3 linked regions of the Homo sapiens genome follow. The protein of the gene in region 1 purifies or fractionates together with the protein of each later gene. This does not show direct contact. Each region holds a gene or a part of one and is shown in the gene's direction. Other genes may lie near its edges.

Region 1 (7,000 bases):
GATGAGAGGATTTTTATGACATGTCATTGTCCTTTCTTCCTAGTGGATGCTGGGCACAGAGCTGTCATCTTTGACCGATTCCGTGGAGTGCAGGACATTGTGGTAGGGGAAGGGACTCATTTTCTCATCCCGTGGGTACAGAAACCAATTATCTTTGACTGCCGTTCTCGACCACGTAATGTGCCAGTCATCACTGGTAGCAAAGGTGAGTCTTGCCTATGGTTCAGGTAAAGTAGGGAGTGTGGAAGAGGTGCTCTGTTCTTCTGTGTCACAGGAGCATCTGTGGGATACCAGGATCCAAAAGAGTTTGAACTGTACATCATAGGAATGACTAGACTACTTGCCCTGGAGAGCTTGATATGGAATCTTAGAAATACCCACTTATGGCTGGGTGCGGTGGTTCATGCCTGTAATCCCAGCACTTTGGGAGGCTGAGGCAGGTGGATCACCTGAGGTCAGGAGTTCAAGACCAGCCTGGCCAATGTGGTGAAACCCCATCTCTCCTAAAAATACAAAAATTAGCCGGTGGTGGGGGGTGCCTGTAATCCCAGCTACTTGAGAGGCTGAGGCAGGAGAATTGCTTGAGCCTGGGGGGCGGAGGTTGCAGTGAGCTAAGATTGTGCCACTTCACTGCAGCCTGGGCAACAGAGTGAGACTCTGTCTCAAAAAAAAAAAAAAAAAAAGCCTGCTTCTAATCTTCCCATCTCTTTGGAATTTCTTTCCGTACTGTTTTGCAGTTGTTTTCAGGATACATTATGTACCTATTTCTAAAACTATTGATAGGAGCTTCCAGAGATCAGGGAGTTGTAGGTATTAATACATTGCCCACCTCTCTTGGTGCCCAGTTCAGGGCTGTCTCATGGGCGCTTGGTCCATATTGTTGACATCTGTAAGCAAGCCGTGACAGTGCTTTGGCTCCAGGCAGGCCTGAATTGTCCAGGGGAAAGTATAATTCTCTCCCTGGATCCTTTAAATGGTCCAAGTAATGAGAAGCAGAACATAGGATCAGTCTGTTAACCCCTTATATGTGTTACACATTTGACAGAGTGCTTTTACGTCTGTTTTCTCCTTCAATTTTCCCCAACATTTCCGCAAGGCCCAGAAAGCAAATGAAATTGTCCCCATTCTCATAGACAGGGAAATAAGCTCAGGTTGGCTAAGGCTTAGAGAGGCCACATCATTAGTAAATAGCCCAGATCTTTGGACTGATAGTCTAACACCGTTTCCACCAGACCCGAACTAACCTCTCCAAGGCTGACTCCTGACTTGGCCACAATCACCAGAGCATGTAAAGGCCTCACCCTACAATTCTTAGCATTGCCCTGTCTATTGTCTTAAAATGTTCAGTGTTGCAAACTTTGCATGGCACCTGTTAGACATATAATCTGAATTATGTATATCTGAGGGCATTCAGGGGATACCAAAAAGCTGCTATCACTGAAGCCTCTTAAGAAATTATAAACTCTTTATGATGCTCTATTGGGTTCTCTGCCAAGGAAACCAGGCATACCTGCACCTTGCCCTCTGGGATCTTATAATCAGCAGATTTGCTTATAAATTGTAGCAAATTTGGAGCCAGGCACAGTGGTGCGTGTCAGCTACTCAAGAGGCTGAGGCAGGAGAAATGCTTAAGCTCAGGAGCTTGAGTCTAGCCTGGGCCACATAGCAAGACCTTGTCTCTAAAAATAAAAAATAAAAATTGCCAGGCGTAATGGCTCACACCTGTAATTCTAGCATTTTGGGAGGCTGAGGCAGTTGGATCACTTGAGCCCAGGAGTTTGAGACCAGCCTGGGAAATATGGCGAAACCCCAGCTCTACAAAAAGTACAGAGATTAGCTGGGCGTGGTGGTCTGTGCCTGTGTAGTCCCAGCTACTTGGAAGGTGTAGGTGGGAGGATCAACTGAGCCCAGGAGGTCAAAGCGGCTACAGTGAGCTGTGATCTTACCACTGCACTTCAGCCTGGGCAACATGTGACCCTGTCTCAAAATACATAAATAAAAATTGTAGCAAATTGGAGTAGGAGAGGTCATATAAAAGACCACTTGTGGCCAGGTGCGGTGGCTCACACCTGTAATCCCAGCACTTTGGGAGGCTGAGGCAGGTAGATCACCTGAGGTCAGGAGTTTGAGACCAGCCTAACATGGTGACACCCTGTCTCTACTAAAAATACAAAACAGCTGGGTGTGGCGGCGCGTGCCTGTAATCCCAGCTACTCAGGAGGCTGAGGCAGGAGAATTGCTTGAATCTGGGAGGCAGAGGTTGTAGTGAGCCGAGATTGTCCCATTGTACTCCAGCCTAGGCAACAAGAGCAAAAACCTGTCTCAAAAAAAAAAAAAAACAAAAAAAAAACACTTGTTTTCCTACAGTGGTTTTTATTTTTAACTCCAGTGTTTGTCCCCTACCCTAAGATTTACAGAATGTCAACATCACACTGCGCATCCTCTTCCGGCCTGTCGCCAGCCAGCTTCCTCGCATCTTCACCAGCATCGGAGAGGACTATGATGAGCGTGTGCTGCCGTCCATCACAACTGAGATCCTCAAGTCAGTGGTGGTGAGTGAACAGGGGCCTTTAGCCTCGAGCCCAGAGCACCACCCTGGGAGGGTGCCAGGTGGCAGGAAGCGCTTGGCAGTGGGTTGGTTGGGATGTGGCTGCTAGTTTCCTGGTTCCTTTTCTGCTTCCTCATTAACCTGACCTGCCCTTCTGCTCCTCCCTTTGAAACCAGGCTCGCTTTGATGCTGGAGAACTAATCACCCAGAGAGAGCTGGTCTCCAGGCAGGTGAGCGACGACCTTACAGAGCGAGCCGCCACCTTTGGGCTCATCCTGGATGACGTGTCCTTGGTAAGATCCTTCGGGAGACCGAGGAGGGGAAGGGGCTGCAGTTCTCGTTTAGGTGCCTGGCTCCATTTCTGGGTAGACGCTATTAGGTCCTCCCTTCTGCTTTGCTAGATGTGAGACTTGAAAACACGGAAACATGCTGAGGTGAGGCAGTCTCCGTGGGTTTTTCAGTTGAGGGTTCTTTTACCTTCCCCCTGCCACACACATTTTTCTTATGACCTCTGGTTGTATCCAGATAGTCTCTAACCACTAAATGTTTTACCTTCTCCAAACTGTTACCCAGAGAGTGATGCCTTGTTAACCCTGTTTGACACAGGCAGAAACTGCCTGGTAGAGACCAGAGAACAGCTCGGGTAGTCCTTCTCCCTAGCACAGACCTCCCAGCCTGACTCCTGGGAGCTTCCTAACACTTTACAGTCCGAAGCTCAGTGAAGTAAGCTCTGGGAACCCCAGTGAAAGGTGATAGAGTGTAAACGAACGGTTGGATTCCCCCAGGCCTGGTATAGGGGGCAAGGGACATCTCTGAGGCGTAAGCTATCCTCTTGAGACACTATAGCTTGTGTGTTTATATGACATTGGATGTCATAACTCAGAAAGCAATGCAGGCAGGATAGCGTTTCAGGTTGAGGAGGGTGAGGGGAAGGGGTCGTGTTTCTAGATTCTCTGGGAAAAACCATTTGGAGTGATTTGTTCGGGCAGTGAGGTAAAGTGTTTCCTGTTCAGTTCTCCCGTGCATTGCTAGGGAAAGGCACTGCCTCCCCCGGCATCTGTGCAGCTGTTTAAACAGCCACTTGACAACACCCAGTGCTAACCCCTGGGCACTGCTCCACCTTGCTCCGCCTGCTGGAAGTCCTGGGGGCTTGGGGCTCCCTCTGCTGGCAAGAGGCCAGGCTGCAGCCATTCTGTGGGCCCTTCCCTCGTAATTACCGTTAACCTGAACACCTTGGCTGTGAGAAAACGCTGAGTAAAAACCTAAGGGAAAAGTTGGCATTTTACTAGACTTTAACCACATACTCCATTCTGGGGAAATGTGGGCTGACCACAAGAAACCCTATCTAAGGTGTGAGAAGAAAATTAGGTTTCATGGGGAATTTGCTGCCCTCAGCTGGCCCTTGTAGAAATAAATTTTATTCCTTAATTATACATTTCATTTTTCATGTCTCAGGATCAGATTTTCTTACCCAAACTTTGACTAAGAAACTAGAAATGGATCAGGCGAAGTACAACAGCTGCAGTTAGAGTTAGGAGGTTAAAAATTCTGGAAGAGAATGAGACCAGGATTTACTCTTCAGGAGAAGTTTGGAGCTGCTTTTTTAAAAAGCAGAGGTTGGGAGAGTGGAGGAAATGAAACAACTAGAATTTGATGGCAAAACCAATGCTCTTCTCTTGATTCTTTTTCAATAAAAATTAGGATGAATAAGTAAATTGCTCTAGGCTGGGCATTAGGAATTCTGAGGTCCCTTCCCATTGTTTGTGCTATCTTTAGGGACAGTCCCGTCAGACCTGACATGATTAGGGAAGGTCTATGGATCATCAGACTTCTAAACCCTCATGCCGACCAATGACTTTACCTGCTTTCTCTTTCTTTTAAACCGTTTAACAGAACCATTCACATTGGGAATACCATGATTTGCGTTCCACCGTCCCTCGTCCTCTTCCTGTTCAGTGGTGGAGCTGCTGTGGGAAGACGCGGACTGGTTAATCCATAAACAGAGAGCATCAGGCTCTTGGATCCCTGGGAACCAGCTGCCTCCCTCACTCTCAGGGACCCTGTTTTCCATCTGGCCTTCCTTGGGCTTTGAACAAGGCATCAAAGGCCCTTGGAAGAGCACTAGTCAGTGGCGGGGGTCTTAGAACCCACAGTTCTCCTCCTCTGGGGAGGTGGTCGATTGAGTAGATACCTTCTGGTGCCTGTGGGCCCCATCAAAAGCCCCCGGTGCCATTTGCTACATGAGGTCACTGTACTGAGAGTGACAGAGTAATATACAGGAGCAGTTTGGGCAGCCAGAGAGTCTGGGTGTAAACTCAGTTTGGATACAGATACGGAGGTGGAAGAGTGTTCTGGCCTCACGGATGCCTCCAGCTGCTAGAGCCATTGCTGGCCTCTTCTTCCAGCGGCCATGGAGCCCTCCCAGCAGTGCTGTCGAAGCAATCACACTGCCTCATCTTGTGCTCACTCTCTCCCCTTAGACACATCTGACCTTCGGGAAGGAGTTCACAGAAGCGGTGGAAGCCAAACAGGTGGCTCAGCAGGAAGCAGAGAGGGCCAGATTTGTGGTGGAAAAGGTGAGCCTTCGACCAGATGGCAGGAGCCTCTCTCTCCCCTTTCTCCGGCACTCAGCTTCCCCATTTGCTGGGTGGCCTGGAAATTCATCATCTGTCATCCCTTCTTCCGGGATAATCAGAAGGGGCTTGAAGGAATTGTACTTCTGCAATTGGTTCCAGAGTCTTCAGGGGCTAGTCAAGGATATGTGGAGTTATGTTCCTAAATCACTGAAGGGTAATTTTTCTTCCACTTCTCTGAGATCAAAAACACTCTCTTACAAATAAAAATGTTTCTCCTGGAGTATTTTCAGCTTCACTGAGAAGTCATTTTTAACCATAGTTACATAGTGAAAGCTGACAGCAAAAAAGATCAAACGTTGCACCAGATGTGCTTTCGTCACTAGATTTTTTTCTAGTGCTAAATCCATCCAGATGTGTCAAAGAATGTGATGGGACACAGTGTATTTGCGTAGCAGCCTGGTCTTTCTGGTATTTGCAAAGACATGTTCATTTATTGTTGTCCCCTTCTTCCCACCACCAGTATCCCTAATTGGTGGGGAGATGGGGACAGCAAGAAATAAAATGGGAAAAGAGGGATAGATTTAATTTTGGAGAATGAAAACACTGTGTGGGCAGAGACTTGTGTTGCTTTGTATCTGCCATAACTTCAGAGATTATAATAAGTCTAGTACAGTGCCTGGTGATAGTAGGTATACAGTAAATGTTTGTTGAGCAAATAGACGCAGGGCCCAGTCATTTCAAAATTGTATGTAATTTCAGGGAGGCTTAATACTGTCTTCTTCCTCACACTCCTGAAGGTCACACGTTGCAGAGAGCTGTCTTCCTATTGATATTGGTAGGGCAAGCCTAGGAGATCTCACTCTGGGTGCCTGGATTCTGGTCAGGAACCAGCCTAACTCACAGGCAGCTCTAGGAACAGTCAAAAGTGCATGCTGCTCTTCCTTAGCCATCCCGAGGTTTTTTGTTTGTTTGTTTGTTTGTTTGTTTGTTTGTGACAGCTCTGTGGCCCAGGCTGGAGTGCAATGGCATGATCATAGCTCACTGCAGCCTTGGCCTCCTGGGCTCAAGTGATCCTCCTGCCTCCGCCTCCCAAAGTGCCAGGATTACAGGCATGAGCCACCACACCCGGCCCTGTCCTGGCTTTGATGAAGTCCTTTAGACTTAAGGCTGGAGGAAAAGATGAGCCTTGAGGATTGATTCCACCTTTCTTTTGCTTCTGTTTTCCTTGGCCTTGGCTTCTCCTGGCTCAGAGTAGGGTTGTTAAACTAGATTGCAATTAATATTAATGAGGACTTTGAAATAAGACAAATATTCCTGCAGCCAACAGAGATGTATCCCTCCCGTGACAAGGAGTGAGCATGAAAGGATAGGGGAGGACTGGTGGGCAATGTGCTCTGCTTCCCCCCGCTTCCCCCGCTAGCCATCAGGAGGAAGTAAACTCCCCGAGTTCCTTCAGGAGCCTGGGAAGGTGGCTTTCTGGTGAAGGGCCTTTGGTTGTAGCCTGACATGCGGTGCCCTGAGGTTTGATCTTTGTCTCCACCTCCATTCTTTTAGGCTGAGCAACAGAAAAAGGCGGCCATCATCTCTGCTGAGGGCGACTCCAAGGCAGCTGAGCTGATTGCCAACTCACTGGCCACTGCAGGGGATGGCCTGATCGAGCTGCGCAAGCTGGAAGCTGCAGAGGACATCGCGTACCAGCTCTCACGCTCTCGGAACATCACCTACCTGCCAGCGGGGCAGTCCGTGCTCCTCCAGCTGCCCCAGTGAGGGCCCACCCTGCCTGCACCTCCGCGGGCTGACTGGGCCACAGCCCCGATGATTCTTAACACAGCCTTCCTTCTGCTCCCACCCCAGAAATCACTGTGAAATTTCATGA
Region 2 (7,040 bases), on another chromosome or scaffold:
GACGGGGTTTCACCGGGTTGTCCAGGCTGGTTGCGAACTCCTGAGCTCAGGCAGTCCGCCCACCTCGGCCTCCCAAAGTGCTGGGATTACAGGTGTGAGCCACCGCGCTCAGCCTTACTTATTTTTTTAGAGACAGGGTCTTGCTCTTCATCAGGCTGGAGTGCAGTGGCGTGGTTATTGCTCACTGCAGTCTCAAACTCCTGCTGTTATTGGTTCAAGTGATCTTCCTGCCTCAGTCTCCTGAGTAGCTGGATCCACAGGCGGATGACGCTACACTCAGCTAATTTTTTTTTTTTTCCTAATTTTTCATAGATACTTCGCTTTGTTGCCCAGGCTGGTCTCGAACTCCTGAGCTCAAGCGATCATCCTGCTTCCTCCAACTCCCAGAGTTCTGGGATTACACGCGCGAGCCACGATGCCAACCAGGAGACCAGAAATTAAGCTCAGCTTTCTTTCTCTCCCTTCTTCCCTCCCTCCCTCCCTCCTTTCCTTCCTTCCTTCTTTTTTAAAACTTTGTGGTATCTGTTTGTGAATTGCTTATTTTACTTACCATATTGTCTTCAAAGTTCATCCATGTTATAGCCGGTGATGGGATTTCCTTCCTTTTTGAGATTGAATAGTATTCCATTGTATGCCTATGCCACATATGGTTTAATCATTCATCCATTGATGGACACTTGGGTTGCTTCTGACTGTTGGCTGTTGTGAGTAGTACTGCTATGAACACGGGTCTGCAAATATCTCTGAAACTCTGCCTTCTTTTTCTGTTTGTTTGTTTGTTTGTTTAAGGCAGTCTTACTCTGTTGCCCAGGCTTGAATGCAGTGGTGCCATTACAGCTCACTTTATTTTTTATTTTTTTGAGACAGTCTCACTCTTGTTGGCCAGGCTGCAGTGCAGTGGCGTGATTTCAACTCACACTGCAAACTCCACTTCCCGGGTTCAAGCTATTCTCCTGCCTCAGCCTCCTGAGTAACTGGGATTACAGGCATCTGCCACCACACCCAGCTAATTTTGTGTTTTTAGTAGAGACAGGGTTTCTCCGTGGTGGTCAGGCTGGTCTTGAACTCCCGAACTCAGGTGATCCACCTGCCTCGGCCTCCCAAAGTGCTGTGATTACAGGTGTGAGCCACCACGCCCAGCCTGCCCAGCTAATTTTTGTATTTTTAGTAGAGACAGGGTTTTGCCATGTTGGCCAGGCTGGTCTCGAATTCCTGACCTCAGATGATCTGCCTGCCTTGGACTCCCAATGTGCTGGGATTATTGGCGTGAGCCACCGCGCCTGGTGGAGTGGTGGAGTCTTTTTTTTTTTTTTGAGGTGGAGTCTCTGTGGCCCAGGCTGGAGTGCAGTGGCGCCATCTCGGGTCACTGCATCCTCCGCCTCCCAGGTTCAAGCGATTCTCCTCCCTCAGCCTCCTGAGTAGCTGCGGCTACAGGTGTGCGCCACCACACTCGGCTAATTTTTTGTATTTTAGTAGAAACGGAGTTTCATCATGTTTCCCTGGCTGGTCTCCTGAGCTCAGGCAGTCTACCAGCCTCCCAACGTGCTAGGATTACAGGCGTGAGCCACCCCACCCTGCCCAACGACTCACTTAGCTTCAACCTGTCAGACTCAGGCTTCTCCTACCTTAGCCTTCTTAGTATCTGGGACAACAGGTGTGTGCTACCATACCTGGCTAAATTTTTCTTTTTTTGATTTTTTGTAGAGACAGGATAATTTTTTTTTTTTTTTGTATAGACAGGGTCAGGCTATGTTTATGTTGGCCAGGCTGGGAAATAAGGTCTTAATAGAGGAAGTTGAAGATTCCTGGGGGAATAGCATGTAGAGCAGCTATAGAGGGAGAGGGTGCTGATTACTAGCTAAAAGACTTAGAAATTTTTGCAAACATGGACTCATGATAGTTTTTGGGTGATGAGTCTTCTTGTAGGATAGCTTGAAAGAGGAGGAGGAAACTAGAGGCCCTGGTAATATAAGGTAACATTAAGTATCCTGATGTCAGTAATGGAGAAGAGTGAAAGACTATGATTGATTGGGTGACTGTGTGGGCAGAGGATGTGAGGAGAAAAGGACATCTTGTGTGTGTGTGCGCACACATTTTTAGTTGTGTATCTTCTACTTGTTTTCTCCCCCACCTTGTACCTGTACTTTCTCAAGCCCAAAAATGAAAATTTACCTGCTACCAACCACATCATCTTGTGCATCTGTGTAGCTCAGTTTTTATTTCTTTAGATCTGTGGTCCTCCGTGGAAAGAGAGCCACTACCCCAAGACACATCTAATATAATACACAGGGCGCTTACGTGGTTAGAAAAGAAGAGATAAGCCGGGTGCGGTGGCTCACTCCTGTAATCCCAGCACTTTGGAAGGCCGAGGCGGGCAGATCACGACGTCAAGAGATTGAGACTATCCTGGCCAACACGGTGAAACCCTGTCTCTATTAAAAATAACAAAAATTAGCTGGATGTGGTGGTGCACACCTGTCATCCCACCTACTTGGGAGGCTGAGGTAGGAGAATCACTTGAACCCAGGAGGCGGAGGTTGCAGTGAGCCAAGATAGTGCCAATGCATCCCAGCCTGGCGATAGAGCAAGACTCATCTCAGGAAAAAAAAAAAAAAGGAGCTTGTTTTGGCCAGGTGCAGTGGCTCACGCCTGTAATCCCAGCACTTTGGGAGGCTGAGGCAGGTGGATCACCTGAGGTCAGGAGTTCGAGACCAGCCTGGCCAACATGGCGAAACCCTGTCTATACTAAAAGTACAAAAATTAGCCGGGCATGGTGGTGGGTGCCTGTAATCACAGCTACTCAAGAGGCTGAGGTGGGAGAATTACTTGAACCTGGGAGGCGGCGGTTGCAGTGAGCTGAGATGGTGCCACTGCACTCCAGCCTGGGCGACAGAGGGAGAATCCATCACAAAATAAATAAATAAAATATATAAATTTTAAAAAGTAGCTTGTTCTTAGTTTAATATTCTTTTTGAGTTCTAAAACGCTAATTTGAAAACATGTCTATTGATGATATTTGAGCAACCGTATCCATATTAAGCCTTAATATGAGAGGAATTATCTTCTGTGTTAATTTTTTTTTTTGAGACGAACTCTTGCTCTGTCACGCAGGCTAGAGTGTAGTGGCGTGCTCACTGCAACCTCCACCTCCTGGGTTCAAGCAGTTCTCCTGACTCAGCCTCCCAAGTAGCTGAGACTACAGGCGCCCGCTATCGCTCCCAGCTAATTTTTGTATTTTTAGTAGAGAAGAGTTTCGCCATGTTGGCCAGGCTGGTTGTGAACTCCTGACCTAGTGAGCCACCTGCCTCGGCCTCCCAAAGTGCTGGGATTACAGGCGTGAGCCACGGCGCCCGGCCATCTCTGTTATTTCATTGTAATGTTTTAACGGGTACCCCCTGTAAATTAGTGTATGAAAGGGCTTTTGTCTGTTGTAAAGCACTTTACAAATGCAAAAGTTTGTTGGAAATTGTATTTGAATGCCCCACATCTGTGTAACCAATCCTCTCTATATGAGGATGTTGTGTATGTTTCAGTTTTATTTTGAAATTTTCCAGAAATGGAATCTTTTAACTGATTTTAGGGAAACCCTTTAATCTCTCTAGGCTGCCTTTCTTTATCTATGAAATGAAATAGTAAGTTCTTTTTAGCTCTGCGATTTAAAAGCTTTAATTTTAAATGAGAGAGTGGTTAGTGATCTTCATGAAGTTTGATAGGTGGCAATACATTTAACTGATTTTGCTCTTTATGTGTAGATCATGGAAGGGAAGTGGTTGCTGTGTATGTTACTGGTGCTTGGAACTGCTATTGTTGAGGCTCATGATGGACATGATGATGATGTGATTGATATTGAGGATGACCTTGACGATGTCATTGAAGAGGTAGAAGACTCAAAACCAGATACCACTGCTCCTCCTTCATCTCCCAAGGTTTGAAATGGTCTTTGAATCTATTCCTTTTACGTCTTGAGATGATAAAATTATGAAGATACCCGGGTGCAGGGAAATGTAGTCTCAACTACTCAGGAGGCCTAGGACAGGAGTGTGAGTCCAGCCTTGGCAACACAGGGAGATATCATCTCTAATAAAATATAAAAGAAAAACATGGTGAAGATAAATTTGGAACGTTTTCAAAGGGAAAGCAAAATTCGTGAAAATACTTATTGATCTCTCTGGCAGCCTTTGTCTTGCTAGAGGCCAATTATATGGGTTGAATTTGAAGGCCAGCTATGAAATTTTTGTGACAGTTGAAAGCAAACCAGGAGAATAGATTCTAGATAAAAAGGCATGTTGCTGAAAATTTAAATTTTTAATTCATTTATGTATTTAACACAGGTTACTTACAAAGCTCCAGTTCCAACAGGGGAAGTATATTTTGCTGATTCTTTTGACAGAGGAACTCTGTCAGGGTAAGTGTTTTCCAGAGAAATATATGTTAGAGGCAGACATGTAAATAAGATGGGATAGTAGATTCCTTTTTGGATAGCATCTTTTATAGTGAAATGTCTAACTTTATTTTATTTTATTTATTTATTTTTTGAGACAGAATTTCGCTCTTTTGCCTGGGCTGGAGTGCAATGGCGTGATACCGGCTCATTGCCACCTCCGTCTCCTGGGTTCAAGTGATTCTCCTGCCTCAGCTTCCCAAGTAGCTGGGATTATAGGCATGCGCCACCATGCTGGCTAATTTGTGTGTGTGTGTTGTTATTTTTTTAGTAGAGATGGGGTTTTGACATGTTGGCCAGGCTGGTCTTGAACTCCTGACCTCAGGTGGTCCACTTGCCTTAGCCTCCCAAATTGTTGGCATTACAGGCATGAGCCACCGCACCTGGCCTGAAATTTCTAGCTTTAATATCTTCAGTGTTAACATCCATGCAGGAAAATAGTCTTTTGGAATTTGTGGTTTTTACTTCCACTTCTTTCCCTCCCCCACTCTACCCTATATTTTGTTCTTTGATTGAGGAAAAAAATTTTCTCTTGATGTTAAAACATCAGTGGAATTATCTCATAGGTTTGGTACTTTTTCATATAGGTTTGTGAGTTGAAGATAATGTATTATCATTAGTTGTGTGACAGATTTAAAGGTTGGAAGTAGAGTGGTTAAATAGGCTAAGAGCAGAATAGGTCCTACTTTAATGAGTATTTACATAATTTTCCCTCACAAGTCAACTGTCATTTTAAGACTGATTTTGGGATTTGTTATTTACAGGTGGATTTTATCCAAAGCCAAGAAAGACGATACCGATGATGAAATTGCCAAATATGATGGTGAGAATCCCATTTGGTTTAGATATAATAGCAGATAGAGGTTTGACATGTTGTCTCCATGGCATTTCCTAAGACTAGTTTAAAAGGACATAGTAGGCTTTAAGATTTTTCCAGCCAGGTGCGGTGGCTCACGCCTGTAATCCCAGCACTTTCGGAAGCCAAGGCGGGCAGATCACGAGGTCAGGAGATCGAGACCATCCTGGCTAACACAGTGAAACCCCGTCTCTACTGAAAATACAAAAAATTAGCTGGGCGTGGCAGCGTGCATCTGTAGTCCCAGCTGCTGGGGAGGCTGAGGCAGGAGAATGGTGTGAACCCGGGAGGCCAAGCTTGCAGTGAGCCGAGAACGCGCCACTGCACTCCAGCCTGGGTGACAGAGCGAGACTCCGTCTCAAAAAAAAAAAAAAAAAAAAGATTTTTCCATGGAAGTTTTGCCACCTTTGTGTGTTGCCTAATTTTTTTTTTTTTTTTTTTTTTATTTAAGGTTCAGGGGTGCATGTGTAGCCTTATATTTAATAGGATTAGATCTGTTTAATCACCTGTGCTACTGAATGTTGGAAATTTCTAGACAGTAGTATAATACACTACAGTTTTAAAAAGCCATATCTGAATAATATTTGCCAAATAAAGTGTGTTTATTTATTATTTATTTACTTTTTTGAGACGGAGTCTCATTCTTGCCACCCAGGCTTCTGGAATAGAGTGGCGTGATCTTGGCTCACCGCAACCTCTGTTTCTTGGGTTCAAGCGATTCTCCTGCCTCAGCCTACCGAGTAGTTGGGATTACAGGTGCCCATCACCACGCCCGGCTAATTTTTGTGTTTTTATTAGAGATGGGGTTTCACCATGTTGGCCAGGCTGGTCTCGAACTCCTGACCTTGAGTGATCCGCCTGCCCTCAGCCTCCCTAAGTGCTGGGATTATAGGTGTGAGCGACCACGGCTGCCCCAGTATAATATATTTATGCAACTAGGAGGTGTTTTTTTTGGCATTTAAAGGACCTTCAGAGGTAGAGTTAAGCAGTGGAACTTTTTTGTGTTGTCTTGTAGGAAAGTGGGAGGTAGAGGAAATGAAGGAGTCAAAGCTTCCAGGTGATAAAGGACTTGTGTTGATGTCTCGGGCCAAGCATCATGCCATCTCTGCTAAACTGAACAAGCCCTTCCTGTTTGACACCAAGCCTCTCATTGTTCAGTAAGTGAAATGCTTGTTGGATAAAAGCTTTCTGCAAAGGGTAATCTTAGAAGACATTATGTAACTTTTACTCTATGTTAAAAAATTATGAGATTATATAAGTGGTGGTAGGGATTTTTGGGTGAATTTAAACACCTTGTAATTAATAGTTTTTCCTGGCTAATGCATTATTTTGAAAGAAACTGGTTACTTATTTTCCTGACTCTAAATAACTTGTAGATTTTGCAGAACAAATTTACCGGAAATCTGCATTAATAGTTTTTGTAATTAATTAATTACAAAACTAGTAATTAATAGTTTTTCCTGCCTAATGCATTATTTTGAAAGAAACTGGTTACTCATTTTCCTGACTCTAAATAACTTGTAGATTTTGCAGAACAAATTTACTGGAAATCTGCATTAATGTTCAATTTAATTTTATTTATTTTTGTGGCATTTGATAACTATTCAAAAACAATAGAAGATGGAATCCTTTGTAAGGGTAAACATTTGACCTATGATAAAACGTGACTAAGATGAGGGAGAGAGGAAATACATTAAGAGAGTTTCGATCTTTCAAAATGCCATACAGTTTTCTGCTTTTCTC
Region 3 (7,040 bases), on another chromosome or scaffold:
AAAATCAAGTCTTCTTACAAGAGGGAGTGTATAAACCTTGGTTGTGATGTTGACTTTGATTTTGCTGGACCTGCAATCCATGGTTCAGCTGTCTTTGGTTATGAGGGCTGGCTTGCTGGCTACCAGATGACCTTTGACAGTGCCAAATCAAAGCTGACAAGGAATAACTTTGCAGTGGGCTACAGGACTGGGGACTTCCAGCTACACACTAATGTGTAAGTATTTCTTTCATAGGATACTGTGATGTGGGCCCTCAGAGGATGATTTTGATGTCTGTCATCTTATTGATCTGGGTGCACCCTAAAGGATTTCTCATAACATTTAAAAACAAAATCATTCTTGGTCATTTCTAGGGTGCCCCTTGAAAGTTTATAGTAGAAGACTGTTAGTCTGACCTTTGGTGCTGAGAGAGTAAATGTTCATTTTATATGGGGTTTAATGTGCTTTGTATTTTTACAAGAGGCATTATATATTGGCAGACTGCTACCAGTACATTCATTTTACTTAATTATTTTGATGTGTGAGATGCTGACTTGATAGGATTGCCTAAAATGTATGGTGTTTTGTGGTTGGGTTTTTTTTTCTTTTTCTTTTTTCTTTCTTTTTTTGTTTTGGTTCAGACAGAGTCTTGCTCTTTTGCGATCTCGGCTCACTCCAACATCCGCCTCCCGGGTTCAAACAATTCTCCTGCCTCAACCTCCCAAGTAGCTGGGACTACAGGCGTGTGCCACCATGCCTGGCTAATTTTTGTATTTTTGGTAGAGACGGGGTTTCACCATGCTGGCAAGGCTGGTCTGGAACTCCTGACCTCGTGATCTGCCAAAGTGCTGGGATTACAGGCGTGAGCCACTGTGCCCGGCTATTGTTGTTTTTTTGTTTGTTTGTTTTTAATTATTTTTGTAGAGATGGGGTCTTGCTATGTTGCCCAGGCTTGTCTCAAACTCCTGGCCTCAAGCGATCCTCCCGCCTCAGCCTTCCAAAGTGTTGGGATTATAGGCGTGAGCCACTGCATCCAGCCTGGTGTTTTTACCTAGCCCAAACTAGATAGATACATAGAAAGTACTTAAAATGTTTTTCTTTCCATTGTAAAAATTCATTGGTAAATAACAGAAGCACAAAGAAGAAAACCTACGTTTCTTACAATCATGCCAGCTAGGTATATAATCTTTGTTAATGTTGTGGTTCACCTTTTTATATGTGTGTGTATATATACTTATATATAAAATACGTAACCAAAAGGCTGTTTGAGAACCTCTTGCATGTTTAATACAGTGTGATAATTCCACTGAATGGATATTCTGTGGTTCATTTTACCAATCCCTGTATGGGTATGGGTTGGGGAAAAAAACCTGTTAAAACTTGCAAGTTTTCAGTGGAACACTAAAGACCCACTTGAGCTGTGGTTTTTTATTTAAATGTAATGCTACAAATCAGCCTGTGCCTTAGACATTATTACATTGTCTATTCTAGATCTACTAATTTAAAATATCTTATAGCAATGATGGGACAGAATTTGGAGGATCAATTTATCAGAAAGTTTGTGAAGATCTTGACACTTCAGTAAACCTTGCTTGGACATCAGGTACCAACTGCACTCGTTTTGGCATTGCAGCTAAATATCAGTTGGATCCCACTGCTTCCATTTCTGTGAGTACTTTTGTGGACTTAGAATGGGGGTTTTGGTTGTGGGAATGAGTCTTTGGGTATACTGAATTATGTTGAAAATTTGAACTGATTTCACACAGTCCCCAGTTTACAGATAGATTAGTTTTAGATTTTGAAATGCGCTTTTTTGATGGATACAGTGTTAGACGTTTTATTTCCAGGCCAGGCTGGTGGAGTTTGTTTAACCTCAAAAGCTGCCGAGTTAATGTTGATGATAACCTTGAGCCATAGGCCTGTCTAAGTCCAGGTATAGCTGGTGTTTGGTCCCTGAGTGGTTCTTACTGTGTCAGAAATAATAGTGCTTTTTTAAGGCTCTCTGTTGTCGAGGCTGGACTGCAGTGGCACAATCACGACTCCCGGCACCTTGACATCCTGGGTTCAACCTCAGCCTCCTACTATTCCCAACTAATTTTTTGATGTTTTTTTGTAGAGATGGGATCTCCATATGTTGCCCATCCTAGGCTCAAGCTATCATCCTGTCTCAGCCTCCCAAAGGAGGCTGTTGGGATTATAGGCATGAGCCACTGCACCTGGCTAGTATTTTAATCATCACTTTGTCTTTTTTTTTTTTTTTTCTTTTTTGAGATGGAGTCTCTGTCGCCCGGGCTGGGGTGCAGTAGTGCGATCTTGGCTCACTGCAACCTCCGCCTCCTGGGTTCAAGCAGCTCTTCTGCCTCAGCCTCCTGAGTAGCTGAGATTACAGGTGCCCGCCACCACACCTGGCTAATTTTTTTGTATTTTTTAGTAAAGATGGGATTTGTTGGCCAGACTGGTCTCAAACTCCTGACCCCAAGTGATCCACCCGCCTCAGCCTCCCAAAGTGCTGGGATTACAGGCATGAGACACCACAGCTGGCCGCCTTCTCCATTTCTAATTGCACTACAGCAATAAAAACCTCAAGATTCATACAGTACACTATTCTGTTACTTACATTGATGTTCTTGGATGTCTGTGGCATTTTAACAGATTTAATGTAAGTGGAAGAAGCTTCTCTCAGCTACTAGGAGTTCATAGTTAAAATGGGAAGGCAGCTTGGGACCCCTGTGTCATTTAATGACTCCTGGGAATTAGTTTGGAAATGTACCTAGCCTTTCCCACTTCAGTAATGTTAGCTGCCACTCCAATTCAGCAGTACCCAGAAGCATTGCTTAATGCTCCTTGTGATATTAGGAAGTATATATTTGGTTCTCCTTCCCTCTCCTGGCATAGAACTCCTAAAAAATCCTTGGAATCCCGAAAGTATTAAGTATCTTTTTGTATGCTAATGAGTTTTGACTGGTGGCTGGCCACCTTTAGGTAGCTTCGGGCTGGAGGCTAGTCAGTGGAGAGACCAAGGTGTGATTAGAGGGGGTGGGGAGAGGGGCTGTAGGTTTAATTGTTCACCAATGGCTAGTGGTTTAATCAGTCATGCCTGTATAATGAAGCCTCATGAAAACCCACAAGGACAGAGGTCAGTGAGCTAGGTAGCTGAGGTTACTGGAAGGTGGCATGTCTGGAGAGGGCATTGAAGCTGTGTCCCTTCCTATGTTTTGCACTGTACATCTCTTCATCTGTATCCTTTGTAATATCCTTTATTAAAACTGGTAAATGTAAATAAAGTGTTTCTTGAGTTCTGTGACCTGCTCTAGGAGATTAATTGAACCCAAGAAGGGGCTTGTGGGAACCTCTGTTTAGAGGTGCCAGGTCAGAAGCAGAGTTAAAACAACCTGGGGCTTGCAGTTGGCATCTGAAGTGGGAGGAGGGCAGTCTTGTGGGACTAAGCCCTTAACCTGTGGCATCTGATGTCTCCAGGTAGAATTAGAGGACATTTAGCCAGTGTCTGCTGCAGAAATTATTGCTTGCTTGGTGTGTGAGGAAAGCCCTCACACATGTGGTCACAGAAGCATTCTGTGTTGTGAGAGAATAGTAGGAGAAACTGAGTTGGTTTTTTTCTGTATCCTCAGAATTGATGTCAGGATTGGGATTTGCTAGAGTGGCTCTAGCTAGAGTGGCTCATCGAAGCATGGTTTAGGAAGAAAAAGGATAAATGGATGGGAAATGAGGAACTTTTGACTCCTGGGTGGTCAGATGGTCACCCCTGCTATGGAGCCACAACTGTGCTGTGCTCAGGTACTTAAAAATTACCAGTGGAATTCAAAGATAGATCCAACTCCAAGGGAGTTGGTTCACTGGGTGCATAAGGAAACGCAAACAATAAGAAACAAACAAAATATACAATCCCTTGATTATTGTTATTTGTGATAGCTAAAATCAAAGTGAAAGAGTGCTGGATTGTACCTTGATGCTAGACCAAGCTCAGGTTTCATTTGGTTTAAGCCTTGGCCACCAGCCTCAAAGCCACCTTGCAAGGGTAAAAAGTACCCCTAAGACCTGTATTTGCTGTATTTTGCCCAGTTTGGAGAAATTTAAAAAGTCAGAAGTTAGAGATTACATTGAGAAATGTGATCTGAAATTGCCTGGGGCAGTAGTCAGGCTTATTAATCAAGATAAAGGCTGACAAATGGGGAAGGGTAGATTTCTGTTGGAAAGGCAAAGCAAATATCTCTAATTCTTACTGATCTGTAACGAAACTGATTTTTTTTGTACCATGCTCATACTGCCATATGGTAATATTGTTGGCAGATTAAACTCCCTTGTGTAAATAAGTCTTATAATACTGATTGATGATTATATGTATTGTGAAATTGAGTTGAAGCCTCCTCAGGATATAATACCTATGGAAAGTGACTGGCCTGAGGAGGAACTGGATCTCACTATCAGCTGATTTCCATCCTGAATAGTTCTGCACAAGGTACAAATAACAGTAGATCAAGGGAAAAGAAAGCTGGTACAAGATGATAAAGATGTTTCTAATGGCTTCTGTCAACCTAAAGGAAGAAACTAAGGCACAAAATACAATTTTAAAGAATTTATTTGCACCATAATGAGGACAGCTGCCCAGCAGACTCAGATCCAAGTGGATTTGAGCTCCATTTGGCCCTTGTTACAAACAGGTTTTTAAAGGCCAAAAATTCGGGACAGGATGTGGGCTGATACAAAGTTGTTTGGCAGGAATTCTCTTTGGTTTACAGAAATAACATTGATTAGTGATTGGCTATACATTGTTCTTTGTATCACAGATTCCAGGAACATGAAGATAATGGGTGAGGGTCACATTGTGCAGTAACACTTTAGATATTTGCCAGCGAGCCTGGAAACTACAAGGAAGGAAAAAAAGAACAAAGTGTTTTTAAACAATTTCCCCTAGGCATGGGGGTGTGTCCTGTGACTAAAGTCTCATTCTCATGTCTCTCTGGGCCTGATAAACTTTGCATACCTCACATTCCTCATACTGCTGAGCTATTTTTTTTTCTCTTCATAGGACCGAGTAGGTTTTTTTTGTTTTGTTTTGTTTTGTTTTGAGACGGAGTCATCCAGGCTGGAGTGCAGTGGCGTGATCTCGGCTCACTGCAACCTCCACCTCCTGGGTTCAAGCCATTCTTGTGCCTCAGTCTCCTGAGTAGCTGGGATTATAGGTGCCCACTACCACACTCGGCTAATTTTTGTATTTTTAGTAGAGATGAGGTTTCGCCGTGTTGGCCAGGCTGGTCTCAAACTCCTGACCTCTGGTAATCCGCCCGCCTCAGCCTCCCAAAGTGCTGAGATTACAGGTGTGAGCCACTGCGCCCATCCTAGTTGCTTCTTTAAACCTATCCCTATCCCACAGTAGCTTCTCCAGATGATAGGCATATTTGTGTTTGTACTCTTGTAGATATGTCTGTTATATAAATGCAACAAGTGTAAACATCCTTGACAGATATATGGACCTTTTTGCTGTAAGGGATCCCTGTTTGAAACCAGGGGGTGGCCTATGATACTATGGTGTATATATTTTGGTTTTTGTCAAGTTCCTGGCTCACAGCTTCTATAACCCTTGCAATTTCCCAAGTGACTAGAGCCGTAAGAGTGTATTTTGTTGAGATATTTGGCCATTTGTCCTCGGTTCCTGAAACAGCTCCAGAGCATAAAAGTGAAAGACAGTCTTTTGTGGGTTTTTTTTTTTTTTTTTTTTTTTAATGAAATCTCACTGTCATCCAGGCTGGATGGAGTACAGTGGCACCATCTCTGCTCACTGCAACCTCAACCTCCGCCTCTCGGGTTCAAGCAGTTCTCGTGCCTCAGCCTACTTAGTAGCTGGGTTTGGAGGTGCCTGCCACCAAGCCCGACTAATTTTTGTATTTTTAGTAGAAATGAGGTTTCACCGTGTTGGCCAGGTGGGTCTCCAACCCCTGACCTCAGGTGATCCACTTGCCTTGGCTCCCAAAGTGCCGGGGTAACAGGAACGAGCCACTGCGCCCTGGGCTATGTTGTTATTTTTAACAGGCCTCTTTCAACCACATCTGAACTTATGTTAATGAGGTGATTTTTGGATAGTCCCTAGATGGCCACATGGTAGGGGGTGCTGGTTGCTAGGGAACAAACCTTCTGCCTTGGGGAGGGCATAGTAGCTAAAGGTTGAGCCAGTGGCCAGTGATTTAATTAATCGTGCCTTTGTAATGAAGTCTCCTTTGTAATGAAGTCTCTGTAAAAACCCAAAGGACTGAGTCCAGGGGGCCTTCAGGAAGGTAAACAATAATACATTCATGTCATGGGAGGGTGGGGCACCCCAGCTCCACAGGGATGGAAGCTCCTGTGCTTGGGACCCTTCAAGACCTCACCTATAAAGGAAAAGATATATAAGTATCTTTTCATCTGGCTGTTCATTTATATCCTTTAAAATATCCTATATAACTGGTAAATGTGTTAGTCCCTGAGTTCTGTGTGCCACCCTAGGAAATTACTTGAACCCCAGGGGGTTGTGGGAACCCCAGTTTATAACCAGTCTGTAAGAAGCAGAGGCAAAAGAACCTGGAGCTTTCAGTTAGCATTGAAAATGAGGGCGGGGCAGTTTTATGAAACTGAGCCCTGAACCTGTGTGATCCGATGCTCTCTCTCCAGGTAGATAGTATCAGAATTGAATTAGAGAACATCTAGCTGGAGTCTGCTGCAGAATCGTTTGCTTGATGTGTGGGAAATTCTCCCTAGGCCTTATGAGAGTATAGAGGGAGAAACTGAGTTTATTTTTTCTACTCCTTATCACAGTTTCATGGTTTAACTCTTACTGTTAAATAATAGGAATTTTTTTTTTTTTTTTTTTTTGGAGACAGAGTCTCACTTTGTTACCCTGGCTGGAGTGCAGTGGTGCGATCTCTGCTCTGCTCACTGCAACCTCTGCCACCCGGATTCAAGTGATTCTCCTGCCTTAGCACCCCGAGTAGCTGGGATTACAGGCGCCTGCCACCGTGCCTGGCTAATTTTTGTAGTTTTAGTAGAGACGGGGTTTCACCATCTTGGCC

The links. Proteins that work in one complex are often made in the same cells at the same time.
Region 2: the proteins of PHB1 (region 1) and CANX purify together in Homo sapiens (affinity purification with mass spectrometry; 3 studies listed by BioGRID and IntAct, with this or other methods). This does not show direct contact.
Region 3: the proteins of PHB1 (region 1) and VDAC2 purify together in Homo sapiens (affinity purification with mass spectrometry; 4 studies listed by BioGRID, with this or other methods). This does not show direct contact.

The regions. Positions count from the first base shown.
Region 1 is NC_000017.11:49,404,883-49,411,882, reverse strand, and holds part of PHB1 (prohibitin 1), read left to right. Parts: intron 1-43; coding exon 44-205; intron 206-2,409; coding exon 2,410-2,552; intron 2,553-2,724; coding exon 2,725-2,841; intron 2,842-5,028; coding exon 5,029-5,124; intron 5,125-6,678; coding exon 6,679-6,891; 3' UTR 6,892-7,000.
Region 2 is NC_000005.10:179,701,927-179,708,966, forward strand, and holds part of CANX (calnexin isoform d precursor), read left to right. Parts: intron 1-3,752; coding exon of another isoform or gene 3,753-3,755; coding exon 3,756-3,926; intron 3,927-4,331; coding exon 4,332-4,405; intron 4,406-5,205; coding exon 5,206-5,264; intron 5,265-6,312; coding exon 6,313-6,454; intron 6,455-7,040. UniProt on the Homo sapiens protein: Calcium-binding protein that interacts with newly synthesized monoglucosylated glycoproteins in the endoplasmic reticulum. It may act in assisting protein assembly and/or in the retention within the ER of unassembled protein subunits.
Region 3 is NC_000010.11:75,220,756-75,227,795, forward strand, and holds part of VDAC2 (non-selective voltage-gated ion channel VDAC2), read left to right. Parts: coding exon 1-215; intron 216-1,496; coding exon 1,497-1,647; intron 1,648-7,040. UniProt on the Homo sapiens protein: Non-selective voltage-gated ion channel that mediates the transport of anions and cations through the mitochondrion outer membrane and plasma membrane.